2 separate regions of the Homo sapiens genome follow, and region 1 is linked to region 2. The links come from fine-mapping of genetic effects on gene expression. A gene starts in region 2. The other region holds a variant in brackets. All regions are shown on one strand. Distances are from middle to middle. Region 1 overlaps PPEF1 (protein phosphatase with EF-hand domain 1). Region 2 holds the start of CDKL5 (cyclin dependent kinase like 5).

Region 1 (5,380 bases), 360 kb before region 2:
AATAATAAAAAGATAAATAACTCAGTTTTTAAGATGGGCAAAGGATCTGAATAGACAATTCTCCAAAGAAGATCTACAAATATCCAATAAACACATGAAAAGATGCTTGACATCATTAGTCATTAGGGAAATGCAAATCAAAACCACAATGAGATTCCATCTCATGCCCTCTGGGATGGCTATAATCAAAATGATAGACAATAACAAGTGTTAGAGAGGATGTGGAGAAATTGGAACGTTCATCCATTGCTACTGGAAATGTAAAATGGTGCAGCCACTTGGGAAAACAGTTTGGGACTTTCTTAAAATGTTAAACTTTTTTAGAATTAGTTTATGACTCAGCAGTTCCACTCCTAGGTACACACTTAAGAGAAATAAAAACATACATGCACAGAAAAACTTGTATGTGATGGCTCATAGAAGGATTATTCATAGTAGCCAAAAAGTGGAAACAACCCAAACGTCCATCAGCTTATGAATGAATAAATACAATGTGTATATCCATATAATGGAATATTATTCAGCAACAAATAGATGTTCAGTACTGATACATGCTACAACATGGATGAGCCTCCAGAACATTGTGCTGAGTGAAAGAAGCCAGACACAAAACATCACATATGTGTCCATTTCTACAACATGTTCAGAATAGGCAAATCTGTAAAGACAGATAGTAGATTGATGGTTGCCTAAGGCTGTTAGGTGGCACAGGGTGGCTACAGAAGGGAATGGGGAATGATGCTAATAGGTATGTAGTTTCTTTTTCAGATGATGAAAACGTTCTAAAATTAGATTGTGGTGCTAGTTGTACAACACTGTGAATATACCAAAAACCATTGAATTATACACTTTAAATGGGTGAGTTACATGGTATGTGAATTATATCTCAATAAAGCTGTTAAAAATATAGTGATGAATTCCAAGAGAATCATGTGGTCTCCTCGTAAAGGTAAAGTCACTTTTTATCTATATATTGTAAGGGACAACATGCACGCTAGTGTCATTGTTGCCACTGCAGTGAACACCCTGATTACCTACCTGTTCCCATTCATGCTCTGTTAAGTGTTCAGTAGGAGATCCATTTGTTTTGATTCTTCCATGTGCATTAAAAGTCACACCTACTTTATTGTGCTTCGAGTCAGTGTCATGGTCTCTGTTTGTTTCCGTTGGTGGTATCAGCACAGATTTCATCTATAAAACAAATTCATGCTTTAGTCCAACCCTCTGCTTATTCTGCCACATACAGAGACTTCAGTCCCAGGTGGGATTCTTTCTATGTTGTGGTGCCACAACCCAATGAAAAACACACGGTCACTTTTTGCATCTCGTCCACCTCCTATATCTCACTCATCCACTGATGTCTGTAAAGTGGGTCTGTTACATTGTTGGTACATTTTCCAATTACAGACATTGCCTATAAAGAAAGAGTTTCTGTGTTTCACTGGAGTTTCTCTATAGGTGTTAAACACATTCTGTGGCATCCACACAGAAAATGGAAGATACCAAGGTAGGGGCAACGAGTCTCCTTATTGAGCCTTTATCTAGCCATAGGATCTTCAGGAGTTCAGAAACACCTCTTAATAGAGTGGCTGCTGTGCATTTTGTTATGCTTTCCAGAAGAAAAGAGAAAAGGTACATCTGTGTCCAAGAAAGTTCTTAAAGGGGACATAGGTTGAAAACTTCAGAAGCCCTTCCAACCTAAATGCATTGTGGTTCTCAGCCTGACTCTGCCAGCCATTGACGATGTTCTCTAATCTTGGCAACAAAACTGCTGCGTTTCTTTGGAAAACAAAACGTCTTTCTGATAGGGCATCAATTACTAGAATCCCTCTTGTTCCCTTACACAAGCAGAGACTGTAATTTTATACTTGTTTCTTTGTAGCACCATGTCTTTAAACAAAACAATATTAAACAATACTTCTGTTATACTGGTGGCCGTGGTTCAGTGATAGACAAATTCTCTGTGGTAGGCACTTAAGTTTCCTTTTTTTTTTTTTTTTTTTTTTTGAGACAGAGTCTTGCTCTGTCCCCCAGGCTGGAGTGCAGTGGCGCGATCTCGGCTCACTGCAAGCTCCGCCTCCCGGGTTCACGCCATTCTCCTGCCTCAGCACTGACTACAGGCGCCCGCCACCACGCCCGGCTAATTTTTTCTATTTTTTAGAAGAGACGGGGTGTCACCGTGTTAGCCAGGATGGTCTTGATCTCCTGACCTCGTGATCCGCCCGCCTTGGCCTCCCAAAGTGCT[C/G]GGATTACAGGCGTGAGCCACTGCACCCGGCCAAGCACTTAGTTTCTTTTACAAACTAGAGTGTGTAGGAAATCTTACCTTTATTTTTCAAAAATGAAATTGAATCTTATTCTGAGGTCCTGTCTCATTGAGCTAGGTAGAAATTCAAGCTCAGCTATTGCTAGCTAGTTCACAGCCTACCTGCCCTGTCTCCTGCCAGCAAATGTTCCCATTAGGGGCAGAGCAGAATATTCTGGGAGGACCCTCTGGACTTGGGTCCACACAACTCACTTCTTTTTCCCTTTTTCTTTCTTTCTTTTTTTTTTTTTTTGTAAAGATGGGGTCTTGCTATGTTACCCAGGCTGGTCTCGAACTTCTGGTCTCAAGTGATCGTCTCACTTCGGCCTCCCAATGTACTGGGACTATAGGCATGAGCCACCGTGCCCAGCTGTACACAACTCATTTCTGATGAGCTCATTGAGCAAGGCCACATGGTCTCTTAAGTATGTGTGGCTCTGAAGTTTTCAAGGCCATTTGGGATCAGGATACTTTGCCCCAGCTCTCCCTAAGGCACTACACGACCATTTTCCCCCAGGGAGTCTAGTAGCCATCTTTCTGCAAATGCCTTGCTGGGGAGTTTGACAAATAATAAACCAGAATCTTAGTTTTAGAAAATCTTCCTTCATTCTTTAATCCCTCTGCATTGACCCCCCTCAACCTGCCCACCTTACAAAATACCTTAAATGAACCTAGAATAGAGGTTGTCATCAAATTCCCCCAACCCTTCCCAACCCCTGTTAACAATGATACCATTACGACCGCAGGTGTAAACCAGGAAGTATGGTCCCTCCTGCCACAGAGGGTTGGAGGGTCCTATGGGATGGGAAAGTGGGGATTATAAAACTGGACTGGAACAATCTACTTTTATGTCTCATCTGATAGAGTTCCAAATGGTTGAACCTATCATTTTCACTACAGTTCAATGATATTTAATACAACAAGTATGTGTTACCAGTTCAACCTCACTCAAGGAAGGGTAGAAGACACAAACAATATACAAGTTGAATTTCTATCTTTAAAGCCAGTCTAAAGAGCAGGTAGAACAGTTATCCCTGAAGGGGGTGAAACTTTAGGTATCCTGAGAAAATGGCTGGCCCACAAACTCTCCCCAGGGTCTGTATTGGTGACTGAAACACAAACCTCAGAACCAAGTATAAGGAAAAAAGAAGAGAGAACTGGAGGAGAAAGCTATATGTTTAGTAGTATATGCCATTTTCTTTTCTTTTCTTTTTTTTTTTTTTTTTTTTGAGATAGTGTTTCACTGTCACCCAGGCTGGAGTGCAGTGGCTTGATCTTGGCTCACTGCAGCCTCTGCCTCCTGGGTTCAAGTGATCCTCCTGCCTCAGCCTCCCAAGTAGCTGGGATTACAGGTGTGCACCACCATGCCCAGCTATTTTTTTGTATTTTAGTAAGGACAGGGTTTCACCTTTTTGGCCAGGCTGGTCTTGAATTCCTACCCTCAAGTGATCCGCCCACCTCAGCCTCCCAAAAGTGCTAGGATTACAGGCGTGAGCCACTGCGCCTGGCCACCATTTTCTTCATATAGGTAATTACATTTAATCCTCCCAAAAATCCAATATGGTAGGTATTTTTATCTTCAGTTTATACGTGTGGAAACCAAGGATTAGAAAACCTCAGTATGTTGCCCAGTCACCCAGGAAGGGGCAGAGGCAGGATGTTAACCTAGTTCTGTCTGTCTAATCTTAGAGCCTCACAGTCTTTACTATGTTAAGGTGGCCCTCAACTTGGGATCTCCACAGAGCTAGTGAGGGACATCCCAGAGGCATCTTCTCAATATCTCAAAAAGCCCTCGATAGAGCTGGCTGCTCAGGCTAACCTCAGGAAAGCAAAAGTGTTCAATCTGGTCAATTGGAAGAGGCTGCCATGACTGATTAGCACTGTAGTCATAGGGCAGGTGGTGATGGAATGTGGCATTCATGCCCTGTGTTCACCAATATTTGACTGACAAAGACATCATGTTCCCTTGTGCTCTTGGTTAGAATCTAATCCACTCATTATGTTAATAATGACTATTATATCTTGATCAAAATGTCTTATTGGCTTGATTACTCACTGATATAATGAGAAAGGTACCTTAAACTTAGAGTGGGCTTAAGTTTTATTGCAACTGGGTTTTGTTGTGTTTGAGACAAGGTCTCTCTCTGTCATGCAGGCTGGAGTGCAGTGGTGCGATCATAGCTCACTGCAATCTCAAACTCCTGGGTTCCAGCAATCCTCATGCTTCAGCCTCCCAAGTAGCTGGGACCACAGGTGTGCACCACCACACCTGGCTAATTTTTTCTTTTTTGTAGAGATGACATCTTGCTATGTTGACCAGACTGGTCTCAAACTCCTGGTCCCAAGTGATCTGCCCACCTCAACCTCCCAAAGTGCTGGAATTACAGGGGTGAGCTACCATGCCTGGCTGCAACTGGGATTTTTTTTTTTTAGAGTAAAAGGAGGTGCTATTAATAATTACAATAGGACAACAGGTGTAAGCCAGGAAGCATCATCATCAGTTGGTGAGGTGGGGAAGGGTGGTATGTAAAATCACCACAGAATCAGGAGAGGGCTGTAAAAAACTTTCTATTCAGTTTTGTCTTAGGTTTACCCTGCTTTGATCTTAAATCCCTCAAGAGATAGTCAGTGACTATTAAGTACTTACTACATCCCAGGTGCTGGGGTTTTATCAATGGACTAGAAAAACAGAGGAAGATAGTAAACAAACAGTACCACAATTTCTTACTTAAATTCGGTAACTGTGATGAAAGATATGTACAAAGGGCTTGACAGTATACAAAAGGGGATCTCATCTGGTCTGGAGGTCAGACTTATTAAACTTTAATTAAAAAGATGGGAGGATACCAGCAACGACATTCTCATTCACATGTGTATAAAGGGTCCAAGAAGTCAAGGTGCCACTGGGGTCACATTTCTGTCTCTATCAGATTAAATTCCAGCTCTAGACCCCACCTGTCCAGGTTGGTTGGAAGTTGATGATCAGTCCTGAGGGGTAACAGTTCAGGTTTCCCACTAGGACCATATAGCATCATCTGGCTCCACTGCTGTTACTGGTCTTCAACCCATGTGGCGCCC
Region 2 (5,380 bases):
AGGAAAAAAGGAATTACTCTCTGGACAAAGAATTCTATTTCAAATTTAAAAAAAATATATCGGATTTTGATTTTAAAAAATTTAGGCTTAGGAAATATGCTAAACAACAAAACTGGAATACTCAACTGTTTGATATATATACATCTAGCAAATTAATCGCTGCATTGACTATGTTAAAAAGGCAAGACAATTCAAAGAGATTTGATACCCTCTCCAATTGAGGAACCCCCAACTACTCTGAAATGGCAGATAATATCTAACACTCTTGGAATGGTTAACTTTATTTAGTATGCCTCTTTTGTAGTTCTATTATTTAATAGAGCCAAACGGAATTTTTCCCTAATTAGGTTTCCTTGTACTTGTGAAATGCTCAGCATACAGTGCTGGCAGCATTAGCTTCTCTCTTCTGGCTCCTTCCCCCCTCAACCACCCTCACCTCCCCCCCAACCCCCGCCCCGAAAAAAAGATTTCCTTCCCAAATGTTCTCTTCTCTGCATTTGTCAACAGAAACACCTACTGGTGGTGTCAAACTGCTAAGACTGCTGCAGGCTTCCTTATTCCTGGTTTCAGTGTCAACGCCAAAAATTCTCAATCCTAAAATAGTACTTTTAATAAAAAGAAATTAGAAGTCTTGCTAGGTACTCAACCTATCATATTCTCGAAAAGCAGCACGCCTTTTTTAAAAATCTATTATTAATGGACCCTAATTGGATTGTTAATCATAAGATCATACTATCACCTTCAACACTAACATACAGGAACAAGTAAATATAGCCTCTTCACATTTTGTGAACAAAACATTTTAAAACACTTGAAGGAAATAAAAACAAATTTACATCTAAGTGTCACTCACATGTAATTCCGAATAGCCTCGGTGAAGATGTCTTTTTTGTAACCCTACAGCAAGAAAGAAACAAGCTGGAAATGTTCCAGCAGATGTTACCTAAAACGATAATCCTGTTCTATACACATCTCTGTCTCCTGTTTCTGACAAACGCTCTCAGACAAATTAATTTGTGTAATCTTTTACATTAACTATATAACCATTACGTTCAAACAAACCTAATTCAGATGCACAGAAAGAAATCATTCGGTGTCAACAATACTTTCTAAAATCAGCTTAAATTCCAGCCAATTAAAATAGATTGTGCTAACAGAATACTGATCTGCAACTACTTAAATATCACAGCACCCGTCTAATCTCACTGTAGAGATACTAAGGTCAGGCTTTTCTTATTCAGGCATCTGTTCTTTAACACTCAAATGAAGCGAAAAACAAAACCCTCAAGGAAGATCTGCCTTTACACTGAAATATGTTCAGGTTATTTTTTTCCCCAACGTGGGCACAAAACGTGTCAATGCAAGGAGGACCTGTTCGTTCTGGGAGACGGTTCCAAATCCCAGAATCCGATTTCTATGAGGGTCCAAAAGGTATGAAGGTCTGAGAAGGGGCCATTCTTCTTCCCCGCACTATGCCAGTCGTGAACTTCACAGCATCGCCTGAAACTTGTCCGGGGGAGGTTGCGGAGCCGCGGGGCCGGCGCCCGGTCGCTAGCCCACCCTCGCGGGCAGCCAAGGTCAGAAGGGCCCGGGCCGCGACTGACGGCCCCTGGCGAGTCTCGGGCTCCCTCCGAACTCGGGCAGGGGGCTGGGGCGCGCAGGCCCCTCCTCGGCGCCGGCGGGAAGGGGCTTACCTCGCCGCAAGCCCCGGGGAGCTCGTGCCGCGGGAGCGGCGGGGCGGGGACGCCGCAGACCCGCCGCTGAGGGGAACCCCGCGGGGCGGGCTCGACCCGCCGCCCCTCTTTCACACCCTTTCGCCTCCCCACACCCCAAAAGACAGCCCCAGCCCCTCGGGGGAAGCCCTTCCAGAGGCGCAGGGGAGCGCTGAGGAGGGGCTACTCCGGGCTGGGACGTCCTCACCGCGTCGCCCCGTTCCGGGGGAACCGGCGCCCCCGCCCCTTCTCTTGTCCGCCCGGGGGGACTGGGTGGGTCTCCACTCTCAGGAGAAGCTGGGTGGACGCGGGGCCGATGTAAGGGTAAGAAGGCTTGGCGGGCGGGTGGCGGCGCGACTACTCACCCCGCCGAGTCCCCCACTTCTAGCAGGGGACCCCACAGCTCCTGAGGACGCCGTCGCCGCTTTACCTTCCCCAGCGGCAGAGACAACTAATCGAAACCTCCGGCCCCGCCCTCTAGCAGAAGCGAACGCGCAGCCTATTTTGCTAACTGCCCCGCCCCAGCCGGCCCGTTCGGACCAATGGGAAAGCACCTCAGGTTTTGCCCGATCCCGCCTTTACCCCGCCCCCTTCTGGTAGGAGCCAATGAGGAGGAAGCGCTTGTCCTGGGGTTCGGGCTCGCGCCGCTCGTGCTCGAGTCTCCGAAGCCGAAGAACGCTGGTTCCTTATACAAGCTCGCCTGCGCGCTCACGCGCGCGCCGCGCCTCCTGGCACGCCAGGTTTGGTTGCCCCGCCAAGCCCTAGCAACCTGGGCTGGAGAGGCTGAGAGGGGCGGGGCCCGAGCCTGGAGTCGACGCCGGGGGGTAGAGCGGGGAAGCAGGGAGAGGGTCGACGGTGGTGGGGTGGGGAGATCGTGACTGAGAAAGGGGTGGCTGCGGGGGTAGGAGGTGGCGAGGAGGCCCCGGAATCCGCCTGTCACTGCGGAAAAAAGAGGGAATCCTGCCTGCAGCGCAGCTACCCTGCCCTCCCTCCGGAGGGACCCGTGCCGGGGGCTGGGGTGGGGGAAGTCGGAGAAGAGGGGGAGAACATACTCGGGGCGGGAGCTGAGAAATACAGGATGGAGGATGGTTTATCTCTGTTGTTGGTAAAAATGATATCGAAGTCCATTGCTGCTGCTGCCCAACTGTTGCCGCTGCGTGTGCACACACACACGCACATATGCACACACACAACACACACTCACACGTACACTCATCCAGCAGCTTGCGGTCCCTTGGGTGAGTTAGGCGCAAAGACCTAGCAGCCTGAGGATTCCTTACACAGCAGCTGGGCGCGTGCAAAGAGCTGTTGCAGCAGTAGCAGCAGCAGCAGCAGCAACGACCCACACCTCCGCTTCGGTCCGATGCTCTGCCACACAAGATCCCCCAGCTGGCTTGAAAGCAATGAAGTCATCGCCCAACCAGTACAAATGTAAAGATCTTAATACCCACCATGGATCGGGTTTCCAAGGAGGATGAAGAGGTGATGAAATTGAAGGAGATAACATTTCCAATGCTACTTTTAGAAAATAAAGAAAAAAAATTTTTTTAAAAAGACATTGGGGACAAATCTATGGAAAGCTGCATAATTATTTTCGCTTTAACAAGCAAAGGAGAAAAATAGGGTCTCTTCTGGTTAGGAAAAGCACGGAAAATAGGCAGTGTATGAGGTCATAGCTGCCACCAAATTAGAAAGATGCAGTACTGTAATAGGAAATAGATATTTGGGATAAAATCCACTTAATCTATTCCTGTAGTGAATCTGGTAACAATATGTAGCAGCATGCTCAGTTTGGCCACTTGATACCAAGCCAATAGGATTTTCTTTTTCATAACGGTGAATATTTGATGAGGAAATGAAAGTGGAAGCATATTAGAAAATTTTACAGGTAGGAGCAATGAATTAGCAAAGAGGGAAAATGGAGTCAGAGGCAACAACAGAGGGCTTCGCAGAGTCTCCTGCCTCCTCCAGATGCAAAGTAACAGTGCTGTGACCTCTAGCTTCACCCACGTGGATCCAGAACTCCTGGGGCAATCACTCCATTTTCATCCCTGTATATCAGAGCCTTTGTACTAGGAATTTCAGCAGCATTACCTTTGACTCAAATGAATAATTTTTTAAAATTTTATTTAGACCTGGTGAACCGGAAGTAACAAATTAATTATCCGTATAGATTGAGAAGATGGAGAAAAAACAATAACTGAACATCTGTTAATATAGGTCCAATTTAGTATTAAGTAGTAATATTAGATGCCTTATAATGTGCCATCCCATATACACAAATATGACCTTCTGCTTAGGGACATTTGCTTTGATCTGGTTTTAAGTAGTGGTAAAGGATTTCTTGCAGTCACTTGCAGTTTAGTTAATTCGTCTTTTGGTCAAAAACTAACCTTTCTAGAAAGTTAGTAAAAGTTTAAAAAGTACCATGCGCCGGGAGCAGTGGCTCACGCCTGTAATCCCAGCACTTTGGGAGGCCAAGGCAGGTGGATCACCTGAGGTCAGAAGTTCGAGACCAGCCTGGCCAACATGGTGAAACCCCATCTCTACTAAAAATAGAAAAAAATTAGCCGGGAGTGGTGGCGTGCACCTGTAATCCCACCTACTCAGGAGGCTGAGGCAGGAGAATTGCTTGAACCCAGGAGGTCAAGGTTGCAGTGAACCGAGATGGTACCACTGCACTCCAGCCTGGGCTAGAGTAAGACTCTGTCTCCAAAAAAAAAAGTACCATGCTGCCATTTAACTGAGCACTTATGTAGAAAGAACACTAATACTAGCCAGTGAATGGATACCTGCTCTGTGCCAAGAACTTCACATAGATTTAGGGTTGCCAGATAAAATACAAGATGCCCCGTTAAATTTGAATTTCAGATAAACAACGAATAATTTTTAGTATAAATGTGTATTTTTATCCTGGATACATGTGGAACAAGGCTAGAAAACTAAATAAGGTTCTAACCATTGCCAAAAAAATTACGAAATGCCCTTCTAGGTCTAGACCTTGTAATGCAATCAGGATCTGGGAGAAAAGCTTAAGAACCAAATTAATGTATAAATTTGTAGTGTTTGTAGAAAGAGGTGAGCATACTTAGACTAAAATATTATTTGCTGTTTATCTCAAATTCAATTTTAACTGAGCATCTTCGATTTTTATTTGCTAAATCTGACACATTATCTCTAATCCTCTCAATTCTCTGCGAAATTCTCACCATTTTCCAGATGAAGAAACAGCTTGAGAACCTCCCCAGCATCGATTTGCTTTTTTGCCCTTCTAATAGAACCCCAACTCTGTTCAGGCATCCACCCGCTCCACACTACCCAGAGTCTCAGTCAATCAATGTGTGGCCTAATTACACTGAAGGAAAGAATTTAACATTTGATGGTTTGAAAGAGGTTTTCCCTGTCTACCCTGCTGGATGAACAAGGAAGCAAGTACGCTTGTTGCCACTGACAGTCATTTCGTGACTAAGAGGAAAACCAGCCCTAGGTCAAAGCCTACACACTAAATAAGGCAGAATCAAAAAATAGAAAAAAAAATTTTTAACTGGGTTCTTGATGACGTCACTGAGTTGTTTCATTAAACAAACTCTGCCCTTTCCTTGCATTTCAGACAGTTTGAGTCAGACTTTCTATTAGATGCCAGAGACGCATCCCACTACAGATGTCAG

Evidence for each region. PIP is the estimated chance that this variant, and not a neighbour inherited with it, causes the effect.
Region 1: its variant is the best candidate, but not a certain one, in a credible set for the expression of CDKL5 in spinal cord (GTEx, PIP 0.52).

Annotation. Positions count from the first base shown.
Region 1 is chrX:18,784,932-18,790,311 of GRCh38, reverse strand. PPEF1 (protein phosphatase with EF-hand domain 1) reads right to left here. Exons shown (of 16, transcript NM_001377996.1): 10 at 1,039-1,191. Among named protein-coding and RNA genes, the nearest start is that of PPEF1, 80 kb to the right of the region's middle. The variant C/G (reference allele first, on the strand shown) is at 2,246.
Region 2 is chrX:18,422,393-18,427,772 of GRCh38, reverse strand. It overlaps CDKL5 (cyclin dependent kinase like 5), which reads right to left and starts at 2,165. Exons shown (of 18, transcript NM_001323289.2): 1 at 2,078-2,165. RefSeq lists a silencer at 1,845-1,914 and an enhancer at 2,250-2,544.